Linked DNA regions of Homo sapiens. The protein of the gene in region 3 interacts with the protein of the main gene of each other region in a pairwise test. Each region holds a gene or a part of one and is shown on either strand. Other genes may lie near its edges.

Region 1 (4,476 bases), on a different chromosome or scaffold from region 3:
TAAGCTTAGGTAGGTAGTAGCTTTCTCATATGTAAATAATAATATGTAAGAGAAGAAAACACATTTGTCAGTATCTATAAAGTATTGCAAACTTCTTCCATGTGAATAGTTCACTGATAATGATAAAATGGGAAAGATCTGATATTAGGATAGGTCTTTTCCTGGTCACTTTACTAGGCTACTGATATTTTGCTTAGTGTGACTGAGCAGCAAGGGTAAGATTTCTGTTTTTCAGTGACAGCTTTGTTTTGATTGTTATGTATTTTTAAAAGATCTAAATTTTGTGCCATATCTATGATTAAATCATAGCTATAGAAGAGATGTTTTGTCCAATTGAGAATTCATCGTTAAGTTAAATTTTTAATATCTGTGGATTGTTAACGTTATAAAATCTTTCAGCTCTACTATATGTGTAACAATAAAATAATATATATTCTAGCACTAACAGTGTGCCTGGCACGATTCTAACTACTATATTAACTCATTTAATTCTTGAAGTAACCATTGCAAGATAAGTACTATTTTTATATTTTACAGTTGAGGAAACTGAAGTACAGCAAAATTAAGTAACTACAGCAAAGGTCACACAGTTATTGAATTGTAGATCAAATTTGAATCCAGGCAACTGATCTGAAGTTTTTTCTTGACTGCTGCATATTTGGAGCACATATCAATATCATTGCACAAAGAACAATTTCAGTGATTAGCTTGTTAAGTATAATTATTTGAGATGCTATTTAAGGCAACTAAATTTATTATAGGCTGCAGATTTCAGATTTGGTAAAATGTTGCCTGTTTTATTTATCCATTCATATATCTATTCAACAAATGTTAATGCTTGAGTATAAGATCCTTGAGAGCAAAAACTTTATCTTATGGTCTGCCTGTCTAGCACACAGAAAGTATGTCGGTGCTTTTATCACCAGTATTTGCATATAGTAGAGTTTAAATATTTATTCACTGAAAGAATATTGAATGCTTGTGATTTGCAAAACATTGCCTTTTTCAAGTTTGATTTTGCATGCTCAGGCTTATTTTTTTTTAATGACATGATTATAGAATATACCTTTAACCTATTTAGAAAACACATGGCTAAGTTTTTTTTTTTTAATTTTTTAATTTTTTTGAGATAAGTGTGGTCTTACTCTGCTGCTCAGGCTGGAGTGCAGTGGTGCAATCATAGCTCACTGCAGTCTCCTAGATGTTAACTCCTTGGCTTAAAGTGATCCTCCTTTCTCAGCCTCCTGAGTAGCTGGGACTACAGGTACGTGCCACCACACCTGGATAATTTTTTATTTATTTACATACTGTTTTTAGTAAAACAAGGTCTTGCTATGTTGCTCAGGCTGGTCTTGAACTCCTGGGCTCAAGCAATCCTCCCATCTCTGCTTCTCAAAGTACTGGGATTACAGGTGTGAGTTAACATGTCCGGGTTCACATAGCTAAATTTCAACAACTGTGCCAGGACTGAAAGTAATTAACAGGCCTCTATCTGAAATGGATTACAGATTATGATTAGGTTGAATACCTGGTCTCATAGAGTTTATGATCTGATCTAGATTAATTAAAAGACTCAAGTTTATAAAGACTTACACATTATACCTTATACATGCTACTTGGAAATAGGGTTTGATTTCATTTGAATGCAGAGAGCAATAATTTACTACTCTGGGTTTAGGATCATATTAAATCAGGAATAGTTTTTGTGAGGTTCCAGATTTGTTTTGCCTTTATCAGGAATACAGTGTTCCATGGGGAATTGTAAGGCACCTTAATGTCTTGGTAAGAGTGAATTAGCAGAGGCTTTTAGGGATTGGACTTGTGTTGGATAATTTTGGAGAGGGTTTGAGGAAGCAAGGGCTACGGGTGCTGTCAGGGAGCAGGAGCAATTTGATGATTGATGGTAAGAATGAAATTTTTAGCATAAAATAAGTACTCATGTTAGGCAAGGGGGGCTATATCTGCTCATTTATGTGGTTACATGGTGCCCTTGTTTTGTCTATGTTCGGACATGAATGGTGGTTTTGGGTGTGTTGTTTCATTATGCTAATGAAGTGACCTCATGTGATGTTCTTTTTCATGAAATTATTTATATTCATTAGAGGGTACAGTAGTTTAGGTGTTAATTGCCAGACAGGGCACCAACTGTTAGTGCTCCTTTTTTATTTGCTTGTTTGTTTCGCTTTGTTTTGTGCCTTTTTTCCCTCAGAGGAAAAAAAAAAAAAAGGTGTGCTACCACAGAAGAGTGTGGTTTGTTCCTGTGTGACTAGCAGGAAGGGTACATGTGAGCACCTGAAGGAAGCTGTAGCAGAAGAGTAGAAAGATCAAGTCATGGAGTTTATCCCAGAGTCGTAGGAAGATTTTCAGCAAGGCTAATATTCTTAGGTTTGTGTTTCACAAAGGTTATCATCAAAGCAGAATAGTGATTTGTTAGGAAAGTAAGATAGGCAAGGATAATTTGAAGAGAATTTTAGTAGTCATTATTTCAGAATAATAATGAGGGTCTCTACTAAGGCAATGATAGTGAGGATAAAGAGCAGGTGATTTATTTGGGAGAAATTTAGATGTTAAAATTGATATGCCTTGATCCTGATAGATACAAAAAGGGTGAAGGAGAGTAAGGAAGGTAACACTGACTACTTGTGTTTGGCTCATGTGATTGGGTAGGTGATTGTTACTCTTTAATAAAATAAAAAATTCAGGAAGAGGAGAAGGTTTGGGAGAAATAATGAGTTCACTTTTGAATATAATAAATTATATATGAAATCCTTAAGACAGAATATCTAGAAATCAGTTGGATACATACATTGGTCCTTGATTTAGAAGTATTGGCTTACAAATTATTAAATGGTAAAGGACCCTACTGATTCCCTTCGTGGAATAAGGTGATAAGCCTCCAAAGATGGCAGTGAAAGATTAGTTGTTACGTGGTAAGAGTTGGGTAGAAGATTTCATGTCCCATACCCCCATAATCTTAGAAGTAGAAGAGTCCCTTTCTTTACAGAGACTTCTTAGCAGTCACTACTGAAGTACATAACAACTGGTGTCAGGGTCCTTGTGTCAGTGGCCATTGCCTTTCCCCTTTCCTTTCCAACCTGAACTCAGTTACCAATTCTTTTCTCAATCCCCTATAGCACAGCTAAGAAACTATTAATGTTTAAACAAGTAAGGCTTTACTAAAGGTTCAGGATAGCAATAAGAAAAAATATAGAAATTAATGTGCAGTTAACTGATCTGGCTATTAAATATAGCTGGTGTTCTGTAATGGTCCACTCTGTAGCCTCTGGAATCCTCTGTAGGAATAACTATGAATAGCCTGCCAGCCTGCCAAATACCAGCTTTCTCCCACCATGAGGCACACTCTTGAATAAGGTTAGACACCGCAAAGTCTGGACCCCAAAATGGAAGACAAAGAGAGCCATTCCTTCACCCTTTATCTGTCTTCCCGGACCTGTTTCCTTTTCCTAGGGCCCCCTCCTCTTTTTGGAAAGATGTCCGAAATGTTCAGGACAACTATCTGTACCCACAGAAAAAAATCCAAGATTTAGTGCATAGTAGATATAGTTCCTGCCTAATTTCAAATTATTTCTTAAAATAACCTCTTGTCCATAGCTCCTACTAAAAGATCTGGGTTTAGGTAGTCTTCAGAATTACACCCTGTAATCTTGACCTCCAGGCTTAGCTAATTGGATTAAGAGTAGACACCTGACCCAGAGAATTCCAGTTCAAAGTGTGATGAGTCAAATTACATTCTCTCTCTTAGCATTTGGAATTAGGACACCACGAGTTAGTTAGTCAAATGATATTGAGCCTGGGCCGGGCTGGCCATGTGGTGGAAGTTTACGCTGATGAGTCAGCAGAGAAAGCCATTCTACAGAGAAGAGCTGAGGGATGGAGCAAATGGCAGAAGTAGGCAAAAGAGACTGTGGCTCTATGAGAGATAAAAATTAGTCTTCTAGTTGTTTCAGTTCTCAGTGGTAATAGTTTGTTCCCCAATTAAGGTTGTCTGTGTAGGCTTACAATAAAGCTCTCTTTATGTGAACCAATTTAAATGGGTGTCTAATTTTTTTTTTTTTTTGCATTGCTTTTGCAGCCAAATGTATTCTGACTGAAACACAGGGTTTGTAGGATTTATTACATTATCCGTAATCTTCTCTAATTGATATTTTTGTAGGGGAGATGCCATCATTTTGTCAAATTAATATTATCAGGATATTTGAAATGTTAGGTTTTTCCGTTTTTTAGAAAAAGAAATCTGTGGATCTTAAATTTTTGCATTACTTATTTTCATATATGTCAAATCAAGTTAGAATGTTTCTTGATTTTTAAAAGATATATATGGTCAGTTATAGTAATAGTTGTCACTTGCCACAGAACAGTAGTAAAAAAATTTGTGAAATGCTTAAATGTTGCTGAATAAAAGCATCATGACAAATTCATGGATACTAATTATTTAATGTAAATATCACCATTTTA
Region 2 (3,906 bases), on a different chromosome or scaffold from region 3:
GTCCTGTCCCCAACACTAAGGAAGGTGGCACTGAGTGCCAGTAGCGAGTGGTACCGGGCTGGGTAAGGTTTTAGATTTGCCAGTATTGTTTTCAATGTATTTCCCTTGGGGGCTGCCAGGTTCTGTTGCACTAGGCACCTGGGGCCTCTGCTGGACAAGGATCAGAGGGTCTTGGAGGCCTCAGCAGGAAGCATGGAAAGGTTGCACTGGGGGTGGTGGGTACTGGATCATCTCTGGGTGTCGCCTTGGACTATTTCCCCTCACTGATTTCTACAGCGAACCAACAGACAGATTGGCTTCTGCTCTGTATAACTACCAGAGTCTCCCCAGCACTTTGGAGTCCCACCAACTCCAAAACATGGCGGGGCTCAAGGAAAAGCGATTATAGGCTCTTATCTGCACCACTGCAGCTCCAAGTGCGGTCTGCAACCAGCAGCATTGACATCACCTGGAGCTTGCTCAGGCTCCTGCCCAGACTTGTTGAATCAGAATGTGCAGTTTAACAAGATTCCCCGGGTGATTCCTGTGCACTCAGTTGGAGAAGTGCTAGAGTGATGAAGGTCCCGATAGCCTAGGAACATTAAGCCCTCCAGTCTGTGAATCTCCTTAGCTGGGGCATAAGGGGCAGTCACTTTCACTCTTCAGAGCCTGTTTCCTCATCTGTAAAGAAAGGATGATAACTTCTGTGCCACAGAGCCATGGAGTGATCAAATGTATGCAAAACCATGGCCAGTTACTGCCTGTAACTTGTTTAAAGGCCAAGAGAACCCCAAGGAAACCCTGATGGGAGTAGGATTGGTAAATAAGATCGGGGATCAGGGTGGCCAGGGCTGGGCTCTGGAGTTGCCCACAGATGGCCCTTTCACTGTCCACCTGGCCTGTAGCAAAGTTAGCTCCAAGTCTGAGCTGCATTTCCCAAGCCCTTTCTGGGGACATCTACTACAAGGATTTGTCCCAGTGTAGCATCTATCAGGCTTCCCTCCTTGCATGTTCTGAGGACCAAATGGAGCCCTTTGCCCTCAGTAGACGCAGGGAACGACAGGGCAGAATGAAATCACTTTAATAGCATAACAACATTTTCAGACCAGGAGTCACAGATGAAGAAAACATTTTGTCTTCCATTTGCACAATTCTGGTGAGGTGTGTGGTTGCACTGGACAATCTTACAGACACATTTTTCACATTGAGAACTTAATAAATAGATACATACAATGTCAAACTCCACAGACAATGAGTTATGAGTGTGATTGTTTTCTTATTCTGCCTCCTCTGGGTTGGGAGGTTGCTTCCCGTTGGGCTGATGGCGGCTGGGTCCTCTAGGAGGGGTACTCATACTCCTCGGCACTGCGACGGCCAAAATCCATCCAGCCCATGTAGTCCCGGTCACTTATCCTGTGGCTGGGGTCCAGGTTCTGCAGGTTCTTAACGATGGACATTCGTCCAGAAGGAGCTACAAGGAGCAGGGAGGAAGGAAACAGGGACATTGCATCTAAAAGCATCTCTAGTTCAATTTGGGAAGGAGAGCAATGGAAAAAGCCAGACGCAATATAACAGACACCACCTTAAAGGTATCAAAGAGCTATCAAAGTAGTGGAACTGATGGACCAAAATCTGAGAGAGGAGAAGGACCAATGTCTGTGTAACTGGAGAGAGGACAATATATTTACAAGTTAGGGGTGTGCTTTGCGTTCTGCAAGTATTTAGGTGGATTCATTTTCTCTAGCCTTGCAGTCTGGGGACTTGCCTAGATTTTCCTTAGTCTCCCTACCGTTTGCTTTCTTTTGGTAGATGGGTGTTTTCCTTTTGTAGATGGCATCAGCAGAAACCAACCAAAGATTTTTCCAGTACTTAATTGTTCCTAAATTCATCCCTTAATATCCATCAACATTCCTGACTCCTGGAGAGCTCTTGTTATTAAGGTGGCACAATTATAATATCTTGATGTTGGAATGGTTAAAAAAAAATCGTTGGTGGGAGTGTAAATTAGTTCAACCATTGTGGAAGACAGTGTGGCAATCCCTCAAGGATCTAGAACCAGAAATACCATATGACCCAGCAATCCCATTACTGGGTATATACCCAAAGGATTATAAACCATTCTGCTATAAAGACACATGCACATGTACGTTTACTGCAGCACTATTCACAATAGCAAAGACTTGGAACCAATCTAAATGCCCATCAATGATAGACTGGATAAAGAAAATGTGGCACATTTACACCATGGAGTACTATGCAGCCATAAAAAGGATGCGTTCATGTCCTTTGCAGGGACATGGATGAAGCTGGAAACCATCATTCTCAGCAAACTAACACAGGAACAGAAGACCAAACACCGCATGTTCTCACTCATAAGTGGAAGTTGAACAATGAGAATACATGGACACAGGGAGGGGAACATCACACACCAGGGCCTATCGGGGGGTGGGGGTTAGGGGAGGGATAGCATTAGGGGAAATACCTAATGTAGATGACTGGTTGATGGGTGCAGCAAACCACCATGGCATGTGTATACCTATGTAACAAACCTGCATGTTCTGCACATGTACCCCAGAACTTAAAGTATAATAAAAAATAGATAAATAAAGCTCCTTTGCTACATAAATACTCTTTTAAAAATATGAATTTGAAAGTTATATTCAGAAAGCTTTTGTCATTTATCAGTAAGTGTTTTGAGTTGATGATCATTTTATTTTTAATGATAAATCAATATCAATTAAAAATGATATTCAGAAAAAGACTGTCGGATTAAATCTTGGCACCTCAGTAAGACTCAAAGAAGGGGGGGAGAGAGGTGATAACAAAGGTGATTTAAATCAGCAATTTTGACCAAAATGCAATAACTGAACCTGAAATTGTCCCATTGGGATGGAAGTTAAGTCTTCAGGAACAGTGTGATCCTTTTGTAGAGCTCACACTGAGTGAGCAGGGACATGAAGAGGCAGTTTATTTGGAGACATGAGACAGTCCTAGCTCAAAGTTCATAGACAGAAGCCTCCTGGGGTATGAAATCAGCAGAACACCTTCTCCTGTGCAAGCTCAGTCTTAAGAAAGGCCCTTCAGGGACTTCAATGGACAAAGCCCAGGCCAAATCAAGGGTAGAGGAGTGGAGGACCACTCAATGACTCCCACTGTGTTGGGGGCCACTGTATCCCCACCTCCTGTCATGCTGGTCTATATCCCTTCTGCATGAGGCTGCCCTTGCCAGCTCCTACCCATAGGCTGAGTAGAGTCAGACTATGGCTTATGTGTTGATAAATGAAAATGCAAAGGCAGTTACCCTGGGTAATGAAATTAAGCAAGTTTAATTAAAAACAGAAACAACACAGAACAACGTCCCCACCCTTTCTCTCCCCAACCCCAACCCTTCCCAGTTTTGGAACCAACAGTCAATTCAGCACATTTCAGGTCTTTTTGCAGATATCCTCAGCCTACGTAGAAGAAAAATAGCCCCTGCTATTTAATTGTTCATCATTCAGGTGAAATATTACCCTTGAATTCAGGAAAACCTATAGACCCAGTTACCTGTACACAGTCACATGGAAACATGACCCATCCTTCTGCCTGCTGTGATGATGAGTGCCCACTCTAAGGCCTGGGCACAACCCAAATTTCCATCTAATGGAAGCAAGGTGACAGCTTCAATACGAGCAAGCAGCCTCAGTTAACGGTGGGGGCACCATGTTCAGTCATGGAAGCTGCATTTATCACACACCCTGACTTCCCCGTTCCACGTACAGTTCTGTCCTCATGTCATGTGTATTTACCAGGGTCCTCACTCACTTTCCCAGTGCTGACATAGAGTAGGGGCTTACATCTGATGTATGGAATTGATCAAAGCCTGATTCCTATGGGCCACAAGAGATGGACGGGCCTCCCTCTGAATCACACAAAGAATTGGAAGGG
Region 3 (3,436 bases):
AGATAAAATCAAGGGCGTGGCTAGACATCCTTTTGTTAGTGCCTTTAAGGGATCAAAAGATCAAAGTATTCAATCACATAGATGGTGTTTTGAAGAGATATGGGGTGTGCTTCTCAGAATAAGCAAGGAATAGAGATGGGATTTTCTATGAGGGATCTTGAAGAAGCCTCTTGTCTAATGGCATGAATCCCCATGACATACATAAAAGGCCTGTAAGTTTTTGACAATGTTATATCAGCAGAAACAATGCCAGCTTAGACTGAAAGGGACAAATAGAGGAAGAAATGAAAGAAGTCTACAGGACTCTCAAAATTTGACAGGAGGAAGCAGGCTGATAAAACTACTCAGCTGTAAACATATGCTACCATTCAAAATAAAGGAACAATGACTGAGGGCAGAACCTAGAGGCCAGAGGGCAGATTTATGACCCCAGGTGAAGTCATAGGATCAGAGTCATCAAAGGGAGGAGTCTCAAGCCTTAGAATATTCTCAGGCCTTGAAACCTAATGGTTGGATTTTGAAAATGCTTGGATTTGAGACTCCTTTTTCTTTCCACTTTTTCCCTTGTGGAATGGCAAAGTTATTGGCTGTAAATGAACCAAAGTCAAAGGGAAAACACAGAATTAGTAGAGAAGAAAATTAAATAATAGAAAAGAAACATCTCTTAGTGCTTTGGCTTCACCTAGGAGGGACAAGAAATACACATCTGGGCTTAAACTGAGCACAAGATGCACTTCTCTATCAACTGTTTACCTGGCACTGACAGGTAAACTTATTGAACATCTTATTATTATTATTATTTTTGAGACCGAGTCCCGCTCTGTCTCCCAGGCTGGAGTGTGGTGGCACGATCTCGGCTCACTGCAAACTCCACTTCCCGGGTTCACACCATTCTCTGGCCTCAGCCTCCCAAGTAGCTGGGACTACAGGCGCCCGCCACCACGCCCGGCTAATTATTTTTATTTTTATTTTTATTTTTAGTAGAGACGGGGTTTAACTGTGGTCTCGATCTCCTGACCTTGTGATCCACCCACCTCTGCCTCCCACAGTGCTGGGATTACAGGAGTGAGCCACTGCGCCCGGCTGAGCATCTTATTATTAATTGAAAAATGACTAAAATATATTTTTCAAATGGGGTAAAATCATGACACTCATACAGATATGAAATGAACACATGCTAAAAGAAAAAGATGTTATGACTGCTTCAAAAGGGAAACCAAAGAGTTGATATGGGAATATTCATCAGTAATATTAAATGATTGTGTAAATGGAGGCAAAACTGGTTTCATAAGGTGAAGAACAACCGAACCTCTACTAAAGAATATGCTGTACATGTATCAGCAGCCTACAACTAACAAAAGGCTATAAAAGACTTCACAGATAATGTAAGGCTGGAATCAGATAACCTGCAGTGGTGTCCTAAAGACAGAGCAAAGTTTTCCACTGAAGCACACATTTATTTTTATAATGTCAAAATCAGGTAGAGAGTTATAGTTCCCTCAAAATCAAGGTTCAGTCATTAGCGTGACTAGATCAGTGTCATAGACATTTCTAGGCTGAGGTCTGATAAGGGACCAGTGGACACCAATGAAATCACAAAGTCTAGGGATGTCACAAAGGCAGCTAGCTCCCTGACCAATAAGGGCCTGGAGCAGAGGGATACAATAGGCAGGACTAAGCACTAGTGTCCTCAGAGACCTACTTGAGCTAGAGAATCAAGCAGAGCTGATGAGAGCCAAACCCAGCAAACATCATGTCAGAGAAAAAGAACTGTAAGAACTCGTCTACAAATAACAACCAGACTCAAGACCCTTCTAGAAATGAGCTACAGGTCCCTAGGAGCTTCGTGGACCGCGTTGTGCAAGATGAACGAGACGTCCAAAGCCAGAGTTCCTCCACAATAAATACCCTCCTTACCTTGCTCGATTGCCTTGCTGACTACATCATGGAGCGGGTAGGCTTGGAGGCCAGCAACAATGGCAGTATGCGCAACACTTCACAAGATAGGGAGAGAGAAGTGGACAACAACCGTGAGCCCCACAGCGCTGAGAGTGATGTGACTCGCTTTTTGTTTGATGAGATGCCCAAATCCAGGAAGAATGACTGAAGACTGGGTCCCAGAGCCTTGAAGGGAACCTCACAGGCTTAGCCAGGGCAAAAATGTGTCACAGCTGAGGAATATCTGCTGTTGTCATCAACAAGTGCTATTAAAGGATGTAAATCCATGAGTATGTTTCTGACTCCTCTCAGTTTCTGTCGCTTTGGGTTGTAGGTGTCTGTAAGACATCCAGGGGAAGCTATCCCCAGAGAGCTGAAGGCGGGGAAGGGGTGGCCAGTGTGGTGTTTGAATCAGTGATTTAGAGGGGGCAGTTTCCAATGGTGACAGTGAGGGCGCCGGCCCTGTGGGGAGGAACTGGCTGGGATAAAGACACCGAGACTTCCTCATTGTCTCTGAACAGGAAGGCCTTGTGAGGCCAGGGAGTTGGCTGGGGGCCTCTGAGGCTTGTTGAATTCCCAGCCTGATGCTGGGGCCTGAGGTGGAGCTGCAGACTCTGACTGAGGTGCAGGAGGCTTTATTCAGGATAGCAAAGGTCTGAAGTCAGAGGGCGGTGGCCACAGGGGTGGGTGGAGAGGGGCACACTGGCTGGCATGAAGTTCATGGGACAGGGGCTTTACATGGAGATTGAAGAGTGAAGGAGAAACCATCATGAAAAATGCAAAAAAGAAATGATGGCCTGCTGGATTTCATTTCTTATTTCTTTATGCCCTGCCTTATTATGAAAGCGGATTTGAGACAGGGATTATTAGCTAGTGCTGTGAATATATCTTTTTGTCCTCTCTTCAGGACACTGGTAAAATAAATCAAAAGAATATATAAAATTTATGATCTGGCCTAAGATGGGCAATTCAAGAAGTTCTTAATGGTTGTTAATTATTAATGAATCAGCTTAATTATAAATGTATTTCATTTAAAACACGATTAACAATTTCATTTTTAAATTGAATACTTATTCATTATAATTACCATATATTGCATAGAGCACCAAAGGATTATTAGTGACTCAATCCATGTTTTAAGAGGTATAGAAATAATTCTGTCCCAAGTGGCGGCCTCTAAAGCACATGCAATCCTTTTCAAAACTTCCTGCTCTGTGCTAAGTTTAAAAGAGGTGTCACATCAAGTGTTGTAGCAATCTGTCCCCTTGCCTGTGAGTGCCCACATTTTAGGTTTCCACCTCTTCCTTGGGTCCTTGGGAGCCACAGTCTGCTGCCTGCTGGCCTTTCACAGAGGGTTGGTCAGAGGCTGCACAGCCGGCTCCAACAATGGGAGCTGCGGGCCTGGGTTTCAGATCCCAGTTCACCACTTCCTGGACATGTGATATTAGACCTTCAATTACTCCCTCTGAGCAGTCCTCCTCATGTGTAAAATGGGGGT
Region 4 (4,476 bases), on a different chromosome or scaffold from region 3:
ACCGTGCCCGGCCATCCTGCAGGTTTTTTAAGTTGAAATGAATGCCTCCTGTCTACTTCTGTTAGCTTCCGTCATGTTAGCTTCCAGATGTTACTTACGCTTCAAGACCCTGCTTAATGATAATAGTGGCAGCCAGTATTTGTTTGGGACTGTGTCGTCAGCAGAGCATTTCTGATTCTGACTTAATTGTTTTGTGTTTTTCAAACAATTGTGGAGTGCCTGCTTTGTGCCAGGGGTCCTCCCCATCTGCATGCATCTCTGACCTCAGCTCATCACTGGGAACCCCTGGAGTGTCCCAACCTTTCTGCTGCCAAGATGATCAGCTGACAGCTTGGGGCAAATCCACAGCCCTCCCTCCCTCCCTCCCTCCCTTCCTTCCTTCCTTTCTTCCCTCCCTCCCTCCCTCCTTCCTTCATTCCTTTCTTCCCTCCCTCCCTCTCTCCCTTTTTTGAGTCCCTTATGCTTTTGTTTAGAGTTTAAAGAACATTTCAGATATTATCCAATCACATATTTTGTTTGAGTTTTTTTCCCTTCCAACTTTTATTTTAGATTTGGGGTTACATGTGCAGGTTTGTTACATGGGTAAAGTGTATGTGTTGGGGGTTTGGTGTACAAATTATTTTGTCACCCAGATAGTGAGCATACTACCAGATAGATAGTTTTGATCCTCACCCTCCTGTCACCCTCTACCCTCAAGTAGGCCCCATGTCTACTGTTTCCTTTTTTGTGTCCATGTGTACTCAAGGTTTAGCTCCCACTTATACGCAAGAATATTCAGTGTTTGCTTTTCTGTCCCTGTGTTAATTCACTTGGGATATTGGCCTCCAGCTCCATCCATGTTGCTGCAAATGACATGATTTTTGTTCTTTGTCATTGCTGTGTAGTATTCCATGGTGGATGATATATACCACATTTTCTTGATCCAGTTCACCATTGATAGGTGCCTAGGTTGATTCTACATCTTTGCTATCATGAATAGTGCTGTGATGAACATATATGTGCATGTGTCTTAATAGTAGGATTTATATTCCTTTGGGTATATACACAGTAATGGGATTGCTAGGTCGCATCATAGTTCTGTTTCAAGTTCTTTGAAAAATCTCCAAACTGCTTTCCACAGTGGCTTAACTAATTTACATTCCCACCAGGAGTGTATAAGCATCCCCTTTTCTCCACCAACTTGCCAGCGTCTGTTATTTTTTGCCTTTTTTTTTTTTTTTTTTTGAGACAGGGTCTCACTCTGTCACCTAGGCTTACAGTGCAGTGGCATGATCATGACTCACTGCAACCTCAACTTCCTGGGCTTAAGTGATCCTCTCACCTCAGCTTCCTAAGTAGCTGGGAGTACAGGTGGGCATCACCACTTTTTTGACTTCTTAAATTATTTTTATTTGTTTATTTTTATTTATTTATTTATTTATTTAAGACGGATTCTTACTCTGTCACCAGGCTGGAGTGCAGTGGTGCAATCTAGGCTCGCTGCAACCTCCGCCTCCTGGGTTCAAGCGGTTCTGCTTCAGCCTCCTAAGTAGCTGGGACTACAGGCATGCACCACCATGCCCAGCTAATTTGTGTATTTTTAGTAGAGACGGGGTTTCACCATGTTGGCCAAGATTATCTTGATCTCTTGACCTCTTGGTCTGCCTGCCTCGGCCTCCCAAAGTGCTGGGATTATAGGCATGAGCTGCCGTACCCGGCCTATTTATTCATTTTTTTGAGACAGAATCTCACTCTGTCACCCAGGCTGGAGTGCAGTGGTGCAATCATGGCTCACTGCAGCCTCGACCTGGTGTCAATCAATTCTCCCACTTCAGTCTCCCGAGTAACTGGGGCTACAGGTGTGCACCACCATGCCCAGCTAATTTTTATATTTTTTGTAGTGTGGGGTTGTGCCATGTTGCCCAGGCTGGTCTTGAACTTTTGGGCTCAAGCAGTCTTCCTGCCTTGGCCTCCCGAACTGTTGGGATTACAGATGTGAGCTACTGCACCTGGCCTGACTTTAAGAATAGTCATTCTGACTGGAGTGAGATGGTATCTCATTGTGGTTTTGATTTGCGTTTCTCTAATGATTAGTGTTGTTGAGCATTTCTTCATATGCTTATTGGCCATGTGCATGTCTCTTTTTCCTTTTTTTTTTTTTTGAGATGGAGTCTTACTCTGTTGCCCAGGGTGGAGTGCAGTGGCTCGATCTCGGCTCACTGCAACCTCTGCCTCCCAGGTTCAAGTGATGCTCCCAGCTGAGCCTCCAGAGTAGCTGGGATTACAGGTGTGCACCACCATGCCCAGCTAAGTTTTGTATTTTTCTTTTCTTTTTTTTTTTTGAGACGGAGTCTTGCTCTGTTGCTCAGGCTGGAGTGCAGTGGCGTGATCTTGGCTCACTGCAAGCTCCGTCTCCTGGGTTCACACCATTCTCCTGCCTCAGCCTCCCGAGTAGCTGGGGCTGCAGGTGTCCACCACCACACCCGGCTAATTTTTTGTATTTTTTTTTAGTAGAGACAGGGTTTCACCGTGGTCTGGATCTCCTGACCTCGTGATCCGCCTGCCTCGGCCTCCCAAAGTGCTGGGATTACAGGCGTGAGCCACCGCGCCCAGCCTAAGTTTTGTATTTTTAATAGAGACAATGTTTCACCATGTTGGCCAGGCTGGTCTTGAACTCCTGACCTCAAGTGATCCACGCGCCTTGGCCTCCCAAAGTGCTGAGATTATAGATGTGAGCCACTGTGCCTATCTGCTTTTGAGAAGAAGTATCTGTTCATGTCCTTGGCCTATTTTTTAATGGGGTTGTTTTTTGCTTGTTTATTTAAGTTCCTTATAGATTCTGGATATTAGACTTTATCAGATGCATAGTTTGCAAATATTTTCTTGCATTCTGTAGGTAGTCTGTTTTTTGTTTTGGGTTTTTTTTTTTGAGACAGGGTCTCACTCTGTCACCCAGGCTGGAGTGCAGTGGCACAATTATAGCTCATTGCAGACTTGACCTCCCAGGCTCAAGTAATCCTCTCACGTCAGCCTCCCAAGCAACTGAAATTAGAGATGTGTGCCAGCATGCCTGGTTAATTTTTTTTACTTTTTGTGGAGACAGGGTCTCTCTATGTTGCCCAGGCTCATCTTGAACTCTTGGGCTCAAGTGATCTTCCTGCCTGGGTTTCCCAAAGTGCTGGGATTACAAGCACGAGCCTCACCATGCCTGGCTGTAGGTTGTCTATTTACTCCATTGATAGTTTTTTTTTTTTTTTTTGCTGTGCAGAGCTCTTTAGTTTAATTAGGTCTCACTTGTCAATTTTTGTTTTTGTTGCCGTTGCTTTTGGAGTCTTCATCATGAAATCTTTGCCAGGGCCTATGTCTGGAGTGGTATTTCCTAGGTTTTCTTCTAGGGTTTTATAGTTTTAGGTATTACATTTAAGTCTTTAATCCATCTTGAGTTGATTTTTGTATATGGTGAAAGGGAGGGGTCAAGTTTCAATCTTCTGCATATGGTTAGCCAGCTATCCCAGCATCATTTATTAAATAGGGAATCCTTTCCCCATTGCTTGTTATTGGACTTTGTTGAAGATCAGATGGTTGTAAATGTAAATATGCGGCTTTATTTCTGGGTTCTCTAACCTGTTCCATTGGTCCGTGTGTCTGTTTTTGTACCAGTACCATGCTGTTTTGGTTACTATAGCCTTCTAGTATAATTTGAAGTTGGGTAGTGTGACGCCTACAGCTTTGTTCTTTTTGCTTAGGATTGTTTTGGCTGTTTGGGCTCTTTTTTGGTGCATATGAGTTTTAGAATAGTTTCTTCTAATTCTTCCACAACTCGCTTGCTCTTCCTTCCTTTCCCTCCCTCCCTTCCTTCCTTCCCTCTCTCCCTCCTTCCCTCCCTCCTTCCCTCCTTTCTTTCTGTCTCTCTCTTTCCTTCCTTCTCTTCTTTTGTTTTCTCTTCTCTTCTTTTTTCTTTCTTTGTCTTTCTTTTCCTTCCTTTCCCTCCTTTCCTTCCTTTCCCTCCTTTTCCTCCCTTTCCCTCCTTTTCCTTCCTTTCCCTCCTTTTCCTTCTCTTCTGTTTCTCTTTTTCTTTCTTTCTTTCTTTTTCTTTCCGGAGGGTCTTGCTACATTGCCTAGGCTGGTTTCAAACTCCTGAGCTCAAGTTATCCTCCCACCTCAGCCGAGGCATTGGGATTACAGTTGTGAGCTACTGCACCCCACCTACAGGTATTTTTGTTTCAGCTGTGACTCCTTGTATTTCCGAGTATAAGATCATCTCCCCCTTTTTTTTAACATTGAAACTTTCATGGGATTCTCCTACATGATATTCGTTATGCTCTTGAAAAACAATTGCTGACTAAAAGGGACTAAAAAGTCAGTGACTTTTACGAAGTTTACATTTTTTTCTGTGTAACATTTACATATATTTCAAAAATAACAGTGTATGTTCAAGCCACATTATGTATTCAGCTTACCAGTGGTGCTTGTGGTATCTGTGGATTCATGAACTCT
Region 5 (3,801 bases), about 82 Mb from region 3:
CTTATACAGAATTCTTATTTATACTTTAATTATAGGTGTGACGAAGAGAAAGAGAGTAGGGAAATACACAGGCAGTGGTTTTAAGTGTAGATGATGGCTCCTTAACCCAGTGTCATTAGATAATCAAACCTAAAGTCTTCCCATATTAGGCAAGCGCAATTCTCTATTTTGGACCCTTCCCATTCTTCCCTTACCTTCTGCTTTTCGTACTGAGGAATTTCGTGTGATTTTAGATAAAGTGATAATGAGATATTGAGCAAATAAGAAAATAGAGGTAATGCTATAAAAAACTAAGCTATGTACACTTTCAAAATGCATGTTTCTTGCATGCTTTTTACTACTTAATTGCATTCTTTGCTAATTTCCTTTCCTTGCTGTCTGTTCTTTTCTAACAGCTGAAGAATGTTCTGCTGACTCTGACCTCAACTTTCTTATTCCTGTTGCAGTGGGTGTGGCCTTGGGCTTCCTTATAATTGTTGTCTTTATCTCTTATATGATTGGAAGAAGGAAAAGTCGTACTGGTTATCAGTCTGTGTAATCAGTTAAATCTAGTGTTTGTTTGTTTTTTTCAATTAGAAGTTACGTTTCCATTGGCTAAAAGCCAGGACATGCTGTGCAATAGATTGTTTAAGATATGCAGACTAACTTCAGTGAGTTCCTAGCTAACTTGGGCATGAGTACACTTATTTAAGACAAAATATATTAGGACCAATTTTTTTCTGTTTTTTTTCTTCCTTTGTTAAAGTATAATTAAAAGAAAAATTGTGGCTTAGAATTTTTTAAGTAAATAATGATTTTAAGCCCCTGGATCCAATTATGAAAGCATTTTTGCTGATGTGTAATTTTATATGTTACAGTTACTTATATTTTACTACTTTGATGTTATTTGCAAAATCAAAGGTGTTAAAGAATTTAACTTGCTTCAGGAAATAAATTCAAGAACATAGTGGATTCATTTTCATTGGTGGCAGACACGAAATTTGGTTCATGATAAGACTTCCTTTCCCCACCTCCTGATCAGCATTATTTAAATCTGTATTTTTCTGTTAGTTAAGAAAGAAATGGCTTCATGATATTGTATTTAATAGCAAAAGTTTGGCTGTCTTCTTCATTACTGTTAATAGCTACTATATTTTAACAAGGAGATTTCTTTTTTTGTTGTTGTTGTTCTAGAGTTTGGAATATACTGATTATCTCAGACTTGACATTTATACTGAAGGATGAAGTAAGACCTCCAGCTTTTTTTAAAAAAGGTGTTGATTTGGAACACCTGTATGGGTTATGGTTTATTAAGGTTATGGTTTAGAAAGTTTTTTTCCCTCAGAGCCTTAACTTGTTAAGAAGGTTCATTTATCCTGCACTGAAAACAAAAACTCTATATACTTTGTTTGTGTGCCTCCTGCACTCTCCCATTCCCTATGTGAATATGCTCTAGTTGATATTTTTAATATATTGATTTCTTTTTTCTCACAGCAACAAGTGCTTACTCTAGAGGTTAGTGGGCCCTGATATGTCATCAGTCAGATGCCTGCCTAGCCAAAGCTGGACTAAGATTATTCTGTACATTTGTTGATCTTGATATAGACTTATATCCCTGTAGGGACTGCTAATGGCTCCGGCTTCTGGAGTAAGGTACTGGAGACCACTCATCCCTGTGTCTGCTTGATTGGTTCAGCTGTTGAATTGCCCTTTTATTTGGAAGCAGTGTTGAAGTTGTCTAGGGTTCAAATGGCTGCTTTGTACACCTGTCATTAGTATAAGGCAGATGTTTATTTTATCAAGCTATTTTATCTCTACATTTAACTAAAAACAAAAGTTCCCAAAGATCTGCCTTCACTTCAGAAATTTTTTTTGGATTAAAAAAATTAAGCCTGAACCTTAAATAAAGTGAGTTGGTTATTCATTCCAAGGATTAAGTCCCAATCTACCTCTCAGCACAATGCAGAAGCTCACCACTGTATTGCTGCCATTAACTCATGCCAGAACCCTTTGCCAATAACTGGAATTACAAATTTTTGTTAAAGAAAATTTATCAAGATCTTTCTTTACTGCCTTCTCTATATGTACATCTCAAAAACATGTACATCTCAAAAACTGGAGTAGAAAGTTAGATTGCTCAACTACAACTCCTCTAGAACTCTATAGCTCTGACATACAGATTCACACTCTCCTCTATTTGCTAAGTATGTAAAGAATGTTTTCTTTTAAAATGTTCTCTTTTGAGAACAACTGCTTATTTGTTATAAAAGCATTTGGTTAAAATGATGTCATCATAAAAAACAGTGGCTTTGTTTCAATACATATTTTTGAGATGATTATCTAGAAGCCAGATTAATAAAATCAGCTTGTGACCTTGCTAAGCATATAAACTGGAAATTCAGATACATTCAAAATTATGGGTTCATTTAAAAGTGTTCTACCTTTTGGGTATGAGACTAATATCACTAATTCCTCAATAGTTATCATGGCTCTATCTTAATTAATTAGAAAATATGTGTGTTTAATTCTTTGAGAATTAAAATAGAGAATATTAACAGAGGGTTAAAAACTGCTTCAACTCCAATAAGATAAAGGAAGCTCAAAATCTATGAGCTGAGTGTTCAATTAGCTTTGCCTACTGAGTTCAATTTTATGTCAATACAACAGTGGATCAGACAGTACGACTTTGAACTGGTGAATGTAAACAATTGTTTTTCACCTAAGCTGCTTTGGAAGAACTGATGCTTGCTGCTAACTAAAGTTTTGGATGTATCGATTTAGAGAACCAATTAATACCTGCAAAATAAAGCATACTGTGGTACTTCTGTTTGATCTAGTATGTGTGATTTTAGATTGATGGATTAAAAATTAATAAAGATCATACATTCCATACCACTATGGATAACCTCATTTTTATTCCATATGCTCAGCCTTAAGAGCTTAGACTTAATTGTATAATCTAAGTTTCTTGAATTCTAGTCTCTTGGATTGTCAACAGGAATCATAGGATCTCATAGATCTGCAACTTAACCAAGTCCCGTCATTAGGAAGGCACTAGTACAGAACCTTTAGTACAGACACCTCAAATAGGGGGACCTACTTAGTCATGGAAATTACAAGAAAACATCAAAAACAAAATATGGAAATCTAACAAATGTAAGAACATCATAACAAACGTACTTTCCGCGTATGTCTGTCTGCATTGATGAACTATACTAATTGTTGAAGTTCATTTCATTCTGAGTGAGATATACCTCAGGGATATGGTGGGGCAAGGGGAGGAGCTATCCATTTTGTGAATTTCCTTTAAATTCCTTACAATCTAGTCTAATGCTTAATTTTTATATAATTGGATAAAACAACAACACATACATAAACATACTCCTTTTTACATGAGAGGTATTTTTGGTGGGAGAAGGAATTAGACATTGGCTCCCTCCATAGTTCCAGAATAATAGGGTTTCATTTTCTGAAAGACGTTTAATAGCTTGTAATTAAGTCAAAAAATGGCCTTCATAACTGCCACCTCATGAGGCCTCTGAAAGAAGCACTTTAAGTTGACTGATAATTAGGAAGAGTGGTTCGATATATGTTGCTGTGAGGGTTACAGTGTATCTAAAAAGTCAACTTGGAGGGTCATCTTTTTAACTTCAATGTGTATACTTTTTGAATGCCAGAACTGCCTTTAGAATTCTGATGAAATGTTTTTCCTTTCCTTTGTTTTTACTGTCTGCATGTATTTTGATAGCAGTGTAAGTTTGGGTCCCTTTAATTTCAAGAGGTATGCATAATGAACAGGAGAAATCTTGCCATACAATGCAT
Region 6 (4,476 bases), on a different chromosome or scaffold from region 3:
GCAAGCCCCCAGCCCGCCCAGGCTGCATCCAGCCCGTGCTCCTTCCACATCTCCTGTACCTGGCTGTCCCATGGTCACCTCACAGCTCAGTCTACAGTGAGCTACTGAGGCCTGTGCTACCTGCCACTTGTGTGGGCCCCCCCAAGGCTGCCTCATCTCTTTGCTGCAGCTACACCTGGGTGCTGCCCCGACTCCTCTCCTCTTGCACACACAGCTGATCCATTAGGAGGTCTGTCAGCGCCCACTATCACGGCTGCCATCTTGGATGCAGCCTGCCTCCTCCCTAGGGTTTCTGCAGCACCCTGGCTTGTCTCCCTCTGCCCTGCCCCAGCATGGTCCTTTCTTTCCCATCCTTCCCCTGGAGGCCCTCCTGGTCACCATCTCACCACGGCAACTGGGGTCCTTCAGGGGCCTCATTCCCTCCTAGGGGATCATGTTGGATAGAGGGGTCAGTGGGCACGTAGCTCTCGCGGATCACGTTGGATGGAGGGATCAGTGGGCACGTAGCAGGCTCTTGGTGGAAGATGTTGGATGGAGGGGTAAGTCGGCCCATGGCAGGACGCATGTTGAATGGACGGGTTAGCAGGCATGTAGTAGGCCCATGGCAGACACTTGTTGGATGGAGGTGTCAGCAGGCACATAGTAGGTGTGTGGCAGATCATGTTGGATGGAGCGGTTTAGCAGGTGCACAGTAGGCCCTGGGTGGATCACGTTGAATGGAGGGGTTGGGGGCGCAGATCATGTTCGATGGAGCGGTTGGCAGGGTACTGCCCTACAGGGCGGCTTGTCACCCGTGCTGTGAGAAGCCCCACGCTGGCTGAAGAGGAGGGTGTCAGCATGCACTGGAGGTGCATGTTGTAAGGCTTGGCAGGTGAACTGGGTGAAAGGTGTGGGTGAGTGGCCCCAGGCATAAGGAGCTAGGCAGAGAGGGACACTTGGGGTGGGGGACAGCACACCCAGGGGCCGGGGGCCAGGAGTGGAGGCTGGCACTTGGCAAACCTGCCCCCTTCCTCCTCACCCAGCCTGGTCCTCAACCCTCAGGCCGCCCAGGGAAGGGTTTCCTCCACCTGAACCCACTCAGCTCCTTTCTTAGCTTGGCCCCACGCCACCGTCCCCAGCCCATTGCTCTGTGTGAGGGTGGCAGTGGGGCTGCAGTGTGGGGCGCCCATGCTGTTTTCTCTCATGCTTCAGCCAAGAACTACATCGCGCTGGATGACTTTGTGGAGATCACTAAGAAGTACGCCAAGGGCGTCATCCCCAGCAGCCTGTTCCTGCAGGACGACGAAGATGATGACGAGCTGGCGGGGAAGAGCCCTGAGGACCTGCCACTGCGTCTGAAGGTGAGTGACCAAGACCCCGGTCAGGCCGGAGCCTGCCTCCCAAGGACTCGCGCACCTCAGGCAGGGCACCTTCCAGGAAGCTGCAGGTGGGGAGGTTCGCGCCTAACAAAGAGTGTCTTACAGCCGTGCCGCTGGTACCTTTGGGTCATCATCTATCGTCATAAGGATGTGTCCTCGGGAGAGAGGCCTTTCTTTTCTGCGCCGTCAGGCTCAGAAACCAGGGGCGGTGTTGGGCAGGAGTGCTAGGATGGCAAGCAAGGGGCCCCTGGGTCTTTCTGTGCAGTGTAGGGGGCAGTGGGGCGGGCTGGACGCAGACTTTCATCTAGACTTCATCACTTAGCAGATTTCTCCATGTATGGTCCAGAGTGGAGGCCAGTGCCTTGAAGATGCCTTCCCCGAAAACAAAGTGCCGTGTCCGTCAGGCCAGGGAGGACGTGCAGAGGCGCCTACTGCCCCTGGATCTGCAAGGGCTCAGGGAGCGAGGCCAGTGTGGGAGCGTGGTGGGTGACACTTGTGCAGGGTGCCATTGGGCACACCTGGAGGACATGAGCAGCTTTGGCGGCAGGAGGAAAGCGGGGAGCGGGGAGCGGGAAGCCCAGCAGTGCGGGCCCTACTCCTGGCCTGACAGCTTGTTTTCTTGGCCATGTGGCCCTATGGCCTCTCACAGAGTTGCTCACAGTTCAGCTCGCATGGTTGAATTAGATGTGTGCCTGTCTCACTCTGCAGAGAACACCAGGATTTCCAGAAGCTTGGCCTCCTGACCCAGGATCCCCAAGCTGAGGCCAGCACAGGGGGCCCCAGCAGATGATTGTCACAGAGGCTGCGGGCAGTATCATGCAGGCACCCTGGGGTTCTGTCTTCTGAACTGACTGAGAACCTGGAGGAACTGCCATCATTGTATTCAGATGGGCGCGTGAGTCAGGGCCAGGACCAGGAGATGGTTGGGCCACCAACTGTCAGGCAGGCAGCAGGCTGAAAGGTCACCGTCCTCGAGCCAGGGAGAAGGTCAGAGTAGGCCCGCCCTCCGGTGGGGGGGAAGAGCAGGAACCCAGGTGCTGCAGGAGCAGCTTCAGCCCAAAGAGCAGCAGGCACAGCAGCCCTGCTGCAGGGACTCGGAGCCAGACAGGTCTGAGTGTGAGCCCCCCGAGTGCCCAGAGCTGCGAGTCCTTTAGGGTGGCAGGTGGAAGGCTCTGCTCCTCCCACTTGGGACAGGCTGTATGTCCAGGGTATGACACCGACCGGTCTGCAGAGGTTCTGAGACATGGGCCAGGATGGCCAAGAACTTGAACCAAGGGAGCACATGGTTTTTACTGATGGTCTGCTCAGAGCTGGCCCTAGGCAAGCATATTCACAGATTGGGTGCCATCATCTCCTTACTAATGGGAGATGAGGAAGCTGGGGTGCTGGCATGGTTTTGGCAAAGACACTCCCGAAATGAGAGTGAGGGTCACAGGTGAACGGGTTAACTTGGAGAAGACCCTTGGGCCAGGCGGCCATGGCCCAGGTGTCCCAGTTTATGCCATCTGGTGTAAGTACTATTATAATAATGCCTCCTTGCATATGCGTCCTGTTCGGAAAATTATGTCACCTAGTTATGGATGGTGAGTCTAGTGTTGTGTAGCATCTGAAAATCCTATTTATTTATGTTACTTAATGACAGGGTCTCGTTCTGTTGCACAGGCTGGAGTGCAGTGGCACGGTCACAGCTCACTGCAGCCTCAACGTGCCAAACTCAAGTGATCCTCCCACCTCAGCCTCCCAAATAGCTGGACTACAGGCATGTGCCACCACACCCAGCTGATTTTTTTGAAAACATTTTGTAGCGATGGGGGTCTCACTATTGTTATCTACGCTGGTCTCAAACTCCTGGGTCAAGCGAGCCTCCCACTTTGGCCTCCCACACTGCTGGGATTCAGGCGTGAGACACTGTATCCAGCCTGAAAGTCCTTTTTAGAAGGGAGAGATTTAAGCTGTTTTGACAAGAAGTAAACAAGACTCTGTTTCCCTTTAGTTTTGGATGCTGTCAGAGCACTTCGATTCCTTTGCAGTTTGTCTTCTTAGAAGTCTCTTGTGAGGGAGGCAATGAATCGTCACAAGCGTCTCCCAGGGCTGAGAGCTGTCCCACCTTTTAGTAGCCTTTTGTAGAACAAGGAGAGGTCTTCACTCAAAGTGAAAATGACAGACACCTCTTTGTGAGCCACCCTTACTCCCACAAAGAATGTTCCAGACTCCACACAGTTCTCTTCTGGAGCCTGGAGGTGCAAGCTGTCATCGTAGATAGAATCCTCTGAAAACAAACTTAATATCTTAAAATCGTAACATTTTTAACATTACATAATTGGAAGATCCGACACGGGAACATTTTTGCCCACAGGTTTGAGCAGAATCTCGTCTCGGCTCCCTTCCCCAGCCTGCCTTCTTCACGGGTCCGCTGGGCCATCGGTGTGGTGACGCTGCTTCCTGGTTTCTCGTGGCAGCAGAAGGGCCGATCACCACAGGCCCAGACAGAGAGCTCTGCAGTGTTCTATTCATAGAGGCAGACTCCTCATAGTTTTTAAGTTTCGTTCTTTTTCCATCTCAGGAGTTGAATTTGTTTGGACCTTCTTTGCAGAAAAGGAGACTGAACTTTTTAATCCCATGTCAGAGGAAGGTCTTGGGTGTACATTGCAGGGAGCAGAAATTGGGGCTTTAAAAAGGGGATCGTTCCCTGGTCATCGAGTTCAGGTGGGGGACCAGCCCCTCCACACTGTCCAAGCAGAGGCTAGACGCCATCCAACGTAATGTTCTAGAATATTCCTTGTCTTTTAAAGGCCCTCTCAACCAGGTGGTTGTGTGTGTTCTAGGCAAAAGAATGTGCATGGCTTTGAGTAAGACAGGATTTCAGATTTATTTTTACCAAGGCCACCCCCTTGCTACCGTGGCGGTCGTGCGTGAAACTGGTGGTGAGCAGTGGCGGGCCAGGCCACCTTTAGTTGTCCTGCTGTTCGCAAGGCCCCCATACGGGGATTAACTGAGCAGCCTGCCGGCTGACGCACATGTTGACTCGTGTAGCTGTTGATTTTAGCCAGCTGGCCTGGCGTCATACTACAGGGGCTTGCCCCAAACAAACCCTGGAGTAGGTTGGTTTTCATAAATG
Region 7 (4,476 bases), on a different chromosome or scaffold from region 3:
TTCTTTACATCCTTTTCTTTCTGCCTCTTGCTTTCTCCTTAAAAATAATAATAATAATAATTCTATTACTCAATTTGGTAGCTAAATGTGAAAAAAAAAACAGGTAACTTTTTTATTATCACTTTGACAGCTACTTACCTTCCTTAAGAGGGCCAGTTTCAGCCGGGCGTGGTTGCTCAAACCTGTAATCCTGGCACTTTGGGCAGCCAAGGCAGGTGGATCACCTGAGGTCAGGAGTTAAAGACCAGCCTGGCCAACATGGCAAAACCCTATCTCTACTGAAAATACAAAAAAAAATGAGCAGGGCGTCATGGCGCGTGCCTGTAATCCCAGCTACTGGGGGGCTGAGGCAGGAGGATCGCTTAAACCCGGGAGGCGGAGGTTGCAGTGAGCTGAGATCATGCCACTGCACTCCAGCCTTTTTGAGACACAGCAAGACTGTCTCAAAAAAAAAAAGGCCAGTCAGTAACTTTGATCTATAAATATAATTATTGGGATTTCAGGTGGGTGGAGGAAGATTTTTAAAGCAAGAGCAGTTTTTCTTTTTATTTTGTAATGGGGTCTCGCCATGTTTCCCAGGCTGATCTCAAACTCCTGGCCTCAAGCAATCCTCCTGCCTCAGCCTCCCAAGTAGGGGGGGTTGCAGGCTCTAGTACTGCATCCAGCTCAAAAGATTACAATTCTGCAGTAAATCATAGTGTGACAGTAAGGTGTTGTATGTTTACAGTTGGACTGTTTCTCATGAGTACAGGCCCCTCCTTGTCTGCAGATGGGGAACCCGCAGATGTACAAGCCTAGATGCAAGGGACTTGAGCATCTGTGAATTTGGGTATCCTCGGGGGCTCCTGGAACCTGTTCCCCATGGATGCTCAGGGAGAACTGTGGCTCCTGGAACCAATTCCCCATGGATGCTCAGGGAGGACTGTGTTGCACAGTGGTCTTGCAACGCCTGTAAGGTCATAGTCATACTGTCCCTCTTCTCAGCTGTAAATGGGCTGGTAAAAGAATCTGTCTCATTAATGTGTTGAAAATTCAGTGAGATAACACAAAGCACTTGGTTCTCTTTCTTTACGTAAGAATTGCTTATTAAAACTGGAGTCGTAAATGTTATAATACTTAAACCTGTCTGTTGCCCCTTAAATGTAGAAGCTTCTAGACAATAGAAACTAAGTCATAAGTGATTTTTGTAGTCATCAGATGTGTGCTTTTAACCATTGAAATTATATGTAACAGTGTTTGCTTTTTCTGTTTGTTTCATTAGTCTCATATAATGGCAGCAAAGGCTGTAGCAAATACAATGAGAACATCACTTGGACCAAATGGTAAGAGTCCACCATTCCGTGTTTTTTAGCAAAAGATTTAAATTATAAAACTGTCAATATAAACCTCTCTACAGAAAGGTGGAGTATTGAGGGGAGGCATCTTACTTCCTTAACACAGCCAAAATTTTTTAGTGTATTTCAGGTTTCTTAAACATGGTTATAATCGTGTGCAATATTAGGTCGGACCTTTTTTTTTTTTTTTTTAGCATGTAACATCATTTCATTAGCATTTTCCAAATCATAGTTGTCTTTTGAGATTAACATTATACTTAATGATGCTCCATAATGTTTTGCCAATTATGTTAGCCAATCTAAAAATGCCTTCATGCAGCTACTATTTTGTGTATGTTGCATTATTTGTATATAATAAATTGCACAGATAAGAGCTGGGTCAGGAGGTCTTGTTTTATAGTTTGTGATATTGGTTGCCAGTTTTTTGCGCAAAGCCTACTAAACGTTGTTTTTTAGGGCTTGATAAGATGATGGTGGATAAGGATGGAGATGTGACTGTAACTAATGATGGGGCCACCATCTTAAGCATGATGGATGTTGATCATCAGATTGCCAAGCTGATGGTGGAACTGTCCAAGTCTCAGGATGATGAAATTGGAGATGGAACCACAGGAGTGGTTGGTAAGAAAAGACAAAACATCCTTTCTCATTTAAGAGACGTCATTTAAGACCACAGGGCTAACATGCCTGCTGAGATTGTTGTCTCTGAATCAGAGCATGAGGAGACAGACAAATCCAAGTTGAAAACATGCTACAAAACAAATGTCGGACTTTCAAAACTGACAGTGTTACAAAAGAACAGAAAGAGGGCTGGGGATTGTTAGGCATGGAGAAATGTGTAATGATTGATTGGACACTGATTTTGCTTGTCTTTTAAGCTATAAAGGATGTTTGGGAAACGTGGAAGAATTTGATTTTGGATCATGTACTGCAATGCTGAGTTTCCTGAGTGATCTGTGACCATTATATTGCAGATGTGTAGGAGAATGCCCTTCTTCTCAGCTGTATACCTAAATACTTAGGAGTGACATGTCATGGTTTCTGTAACTAATTCTCAAATAGTTGAACAGAAACAGTATGTACATGTAGAGAAAATGTGGCAAAATGTTAATAAGTAAACTGGTATTCGTTTTAGTATTGTACCTTTTTTTTCTGAAGATTTGAAATCTTTAAAAAGTTGGGGAGATTGAAGACAAAATATCAGTAAGGTTACCTTTTCTGCAGATGAAATTTGAATTCATTCAACAAATATTTATTGGATACTATTGTATGCCAAGCACTGTTCTCGGTGCGCTTGGAGAGCTGTAGATTTAAACAAAATTCATCTTTGCGACCCTAAAATGAGGAGAAAGGAGGATGGGGGTGGGGGGAATAAATAATAAACACGTTTTAGTCTCATCACCAGGCTGAATTTCACTGAGTAGACCCTGGCCCAGGAAACATAATAGCTTTTTACCTCTTAGAAAAATGTTCTTTTTACATTATATTCTTTAGTTACGTTCTTCACATCACTGAGGGTTGAATGTTCATCTGTAAGGGGACACATGTCCTATTCGACCTTCGCTAGAACTAAAACGAGGCTTTCTTTTAAAAATAGAGGGCTTCTGCCTCTAAGATGACTTGCAGCTTAATTCTAGAAGCTGCTTCTTTCCATGATAGCATCTAACTTGTGCTGATTATACTAAAAGTGAAGTTTTGTTGTTTGCCTGAACTGATTGTCTGCTGGCTTATTTGCAGTCCTGGCTGGTGCCTTGTTAGAAGAAGCGGAGCAATTGCTAGACCGAGGCATTCACCCAATCAGAATAGCCGATGGCTATGAGCAGGCTGCTCGTGTTGCTATTGAACACCTGGACAAGATCAGCGATAGCGTCCTTGTTGACATAAAGGACACCGAACCCCTGATTCAGACAGCAAAAACCACGCTGGGCTCCAAAGTGTACGTTTCAGTAGATGATATGATTACCCATTTGTAGAGGAGGCAGTTTGTTTGCCATTTCTTAAAGGCAACACAAAATGACCACTGGTGGATTTGTATCGATTTGATTATTTGTTTTGATTACTTGGTTTTGCTTTGTTTTTAATGTAGATGTAGACAGATGCATTTTGTATTTAAGTTGAGAACTGAATTTCTAAGTTCAGGTATAAATCCCCTTGACAATATTTGCAAAATATAGTTATTTTAATTTAGCAGAATAGGTTGTGTTAAAAATCAGCTAAGGCTGGATGCAGTGGCTCATACTTGTAATCTCAGCACTTTAGGAGGCCAAAGCAGTAGCTTGCTTGAGCTCAGGAATTGAAGACCAGCCAGGGCAATGTAGTGGGACCCCATCGCTACAAAACAAAAAACTAGCCAGGCATGGTAGCACACACTTCAGCAACTCCAGAGGCTGAGGTGAGAGGTCGAGGCTGCAGCAAGCCATGATCATGCCACTGCACTCCAGCTTGAGCAACAGAGCGAGACCCTGTCTCAAAAAAAAAAAAAAGTCAACTAGAAAGGGTCCTACCTGGAGGATATGTGAATTTTCTTAACACTTCTTTCTATAATTTCTTTGCTGGGGAGCCATTGGGGGTGGGTTCCACTTTTTATTCAGCAAATTGCCGATCCAAAATTATAATTTAGTAAAGAGAGTCTTGAAAGCGACTTGTCTCTGGTGTTTTCAGCGTTCGTGTAATGTCCGTTTGCCAGGCTTACTGCCAGGTCTTATGGGCACTAAGACACAGCTCTTCTCCCAGGAGACTCTAAGCAACCTCAGCCAAGGGGTGCGCTGATTATGTACAATGCCAAAGACTTAAGGTCTGTTGCCGTAATATAACATAAAAATCCAGTGTAAGCTGCTTTATTACATTATATTAAATCAGTGAGAGATGTTTTCAATTGTGTGCTTGTGGTGGTTTTAGCAAAAAGGAATGAGGGATCTTCTAAACTCAGAGTAGTCAGGGAAAATGCAGGAAAAGTGTCTGCTTCTGTTGCCTTTTCCCCTGAGCAAAGCCTATGTTAGAGCAGAAGCCTTCAGCAATGCCTGCTGTCCTCCTCTAACCACAGATCTCAGCAGAGACTAGCTCCCTAGGCAAGAGTGAGTACCCTAGGGGTAGCCTCTTGTCACAAGTATAACACTTATTTTCTCATGAAAGGAGGACATCA

What was found.
Region 1: the proteins of H2AP (region 3) and CEP44 interact in binary tests that used the Homo sapiens proteins (3 or more experiments, as listed by UniProt).
Region 2: the proteins of H2AP (region 3) and CCK interact in binary tests that used the Homo sapiens proteins (3 or more experiments, as listed by UniProt).
Region 4: the proteins of H2AP (region 3) and NTAQ1 interact in binary tests that used the Homo sapiens proteins (3 or more experiments, as listed by UniProt).
Region 5: the proteins of H2AP (region 3) and LAMP2 interact in binary tests that used the Homo sapiens proteins (3 or more experiments, as listed by UniProt).
Region 6: the proteins of H2AP (region 3) and WFS1 interact in binary tests that used the Homo sapiens proteins (3 or more experiments, as listed by UniProt).
Region 7: the proteins of H2AP (region 3) and CCT5 interact in binary tests that used the Homo sapiens proteins (3 or more experiments, as listed by UniProt).

The regions. Positions count from the first base shown.
Region 1 is NC_000004.12:174,311,170-174,315,645, forward strand, and holds part of CEP44 (centrosomal protein of 44 kDa), read left to right. Parts: intron 1-4,476. UniProt on the Homo sapiens protein: Centriole-enriched microtubule-binding protein involved in centriole biogenesis. In collaboration with CEP295 and POC1B, is required for the centriole-to-centrosome conversion by ensuring the formation of bona fide centriole wall.
Region 2 is NC_000003.12:42,256,782-42,260,687, forward strand, and holds the end of CCK (cholecystokinin preproprotein), read right to left. Parts: intron 1,451-3,906; coding exon 1,317-1,450; 3' UTR 1,045-1,316; downstream 1-1,044. UniProt on the Homo sapiens protein: This peptide hormone induces gall bladder contraction and the release of pancreatic enzymes in the gut. Its function in the brain is not clear.
Region 3 is NC_000023.11:37,989,087-37,992,522, forward strand, and holds H2AP (huntingtin-interacting protein M), read left to right. Parts: upstream 1-1,692; 5' UTR 1,693-1,753; coding exon 1,754-2,107; 3' UTR 2,108-2,228; downstream 2,229-3,436.
Region 4 is NC_000008.11:123,419,386-123,423,861, forward strand, and holds part of NTAQ1 (protein N-terminal glutamine amidohydrolase), read left to right. Parts: intron 1-4,476. UniProt on the Homo sapiens protein: Mediates the side-chain deamidation of N-terminal glutamine residues to glutamate, an important step in N-end rule pathway of protein degradation.
Region 5 is NC_000023.11:120,425,221-120,429,021, reverse strand, and holds the end of LAMP2 (lysosome-associated membrane glycoprotein 2 isoform A precursor), read left to right. Parts: 3' UTR 1-395; coding exon of another isoform or gene 396-538; 3' UTR 539-2,874; downstream 2,875-3,801. UniProt on the Homo sapiens protein: Lysosomal membrane glycoprotein which plays an important role in lysosome biogenesis, lysosomal pH regulation and autophagy.
Region 6 is NC_000004.12:6,293,850-6,298,325, forward strand, and holds part of WFS1 (wolframin), read left to right. Parts: intron 1-1,191; coding exon 1,192-1,340; intron 1,341-4,476. UniProt on the Homo sapiens protein: Participates in the regulation of cellular Ca(2+) homeostasis, at least partly, by modulating the filling state of the endoplasmic reticulum Ca(2+) store.
Region 7 is NC_000005.10:10,252,884-10,257,359, forward strand, and holds part of CCT5 (T-complex protein 1 subunit epsilon), read left to right. Parts: intron 1-1,261; coding exon 1,262-1,322; intron 1,323-1,790; coding exon 1,791-1,955; intron 1,956-3,071; coding exon 3,072-3,270; intron 3,271-4,476. UniProt on the Homo sapiens protein: Component of the chaperonin-containing T-complex (TRiC), a molecular chaperone complex that assists the folding of actin, tubulin and other proteins upon ATP hydrolysis.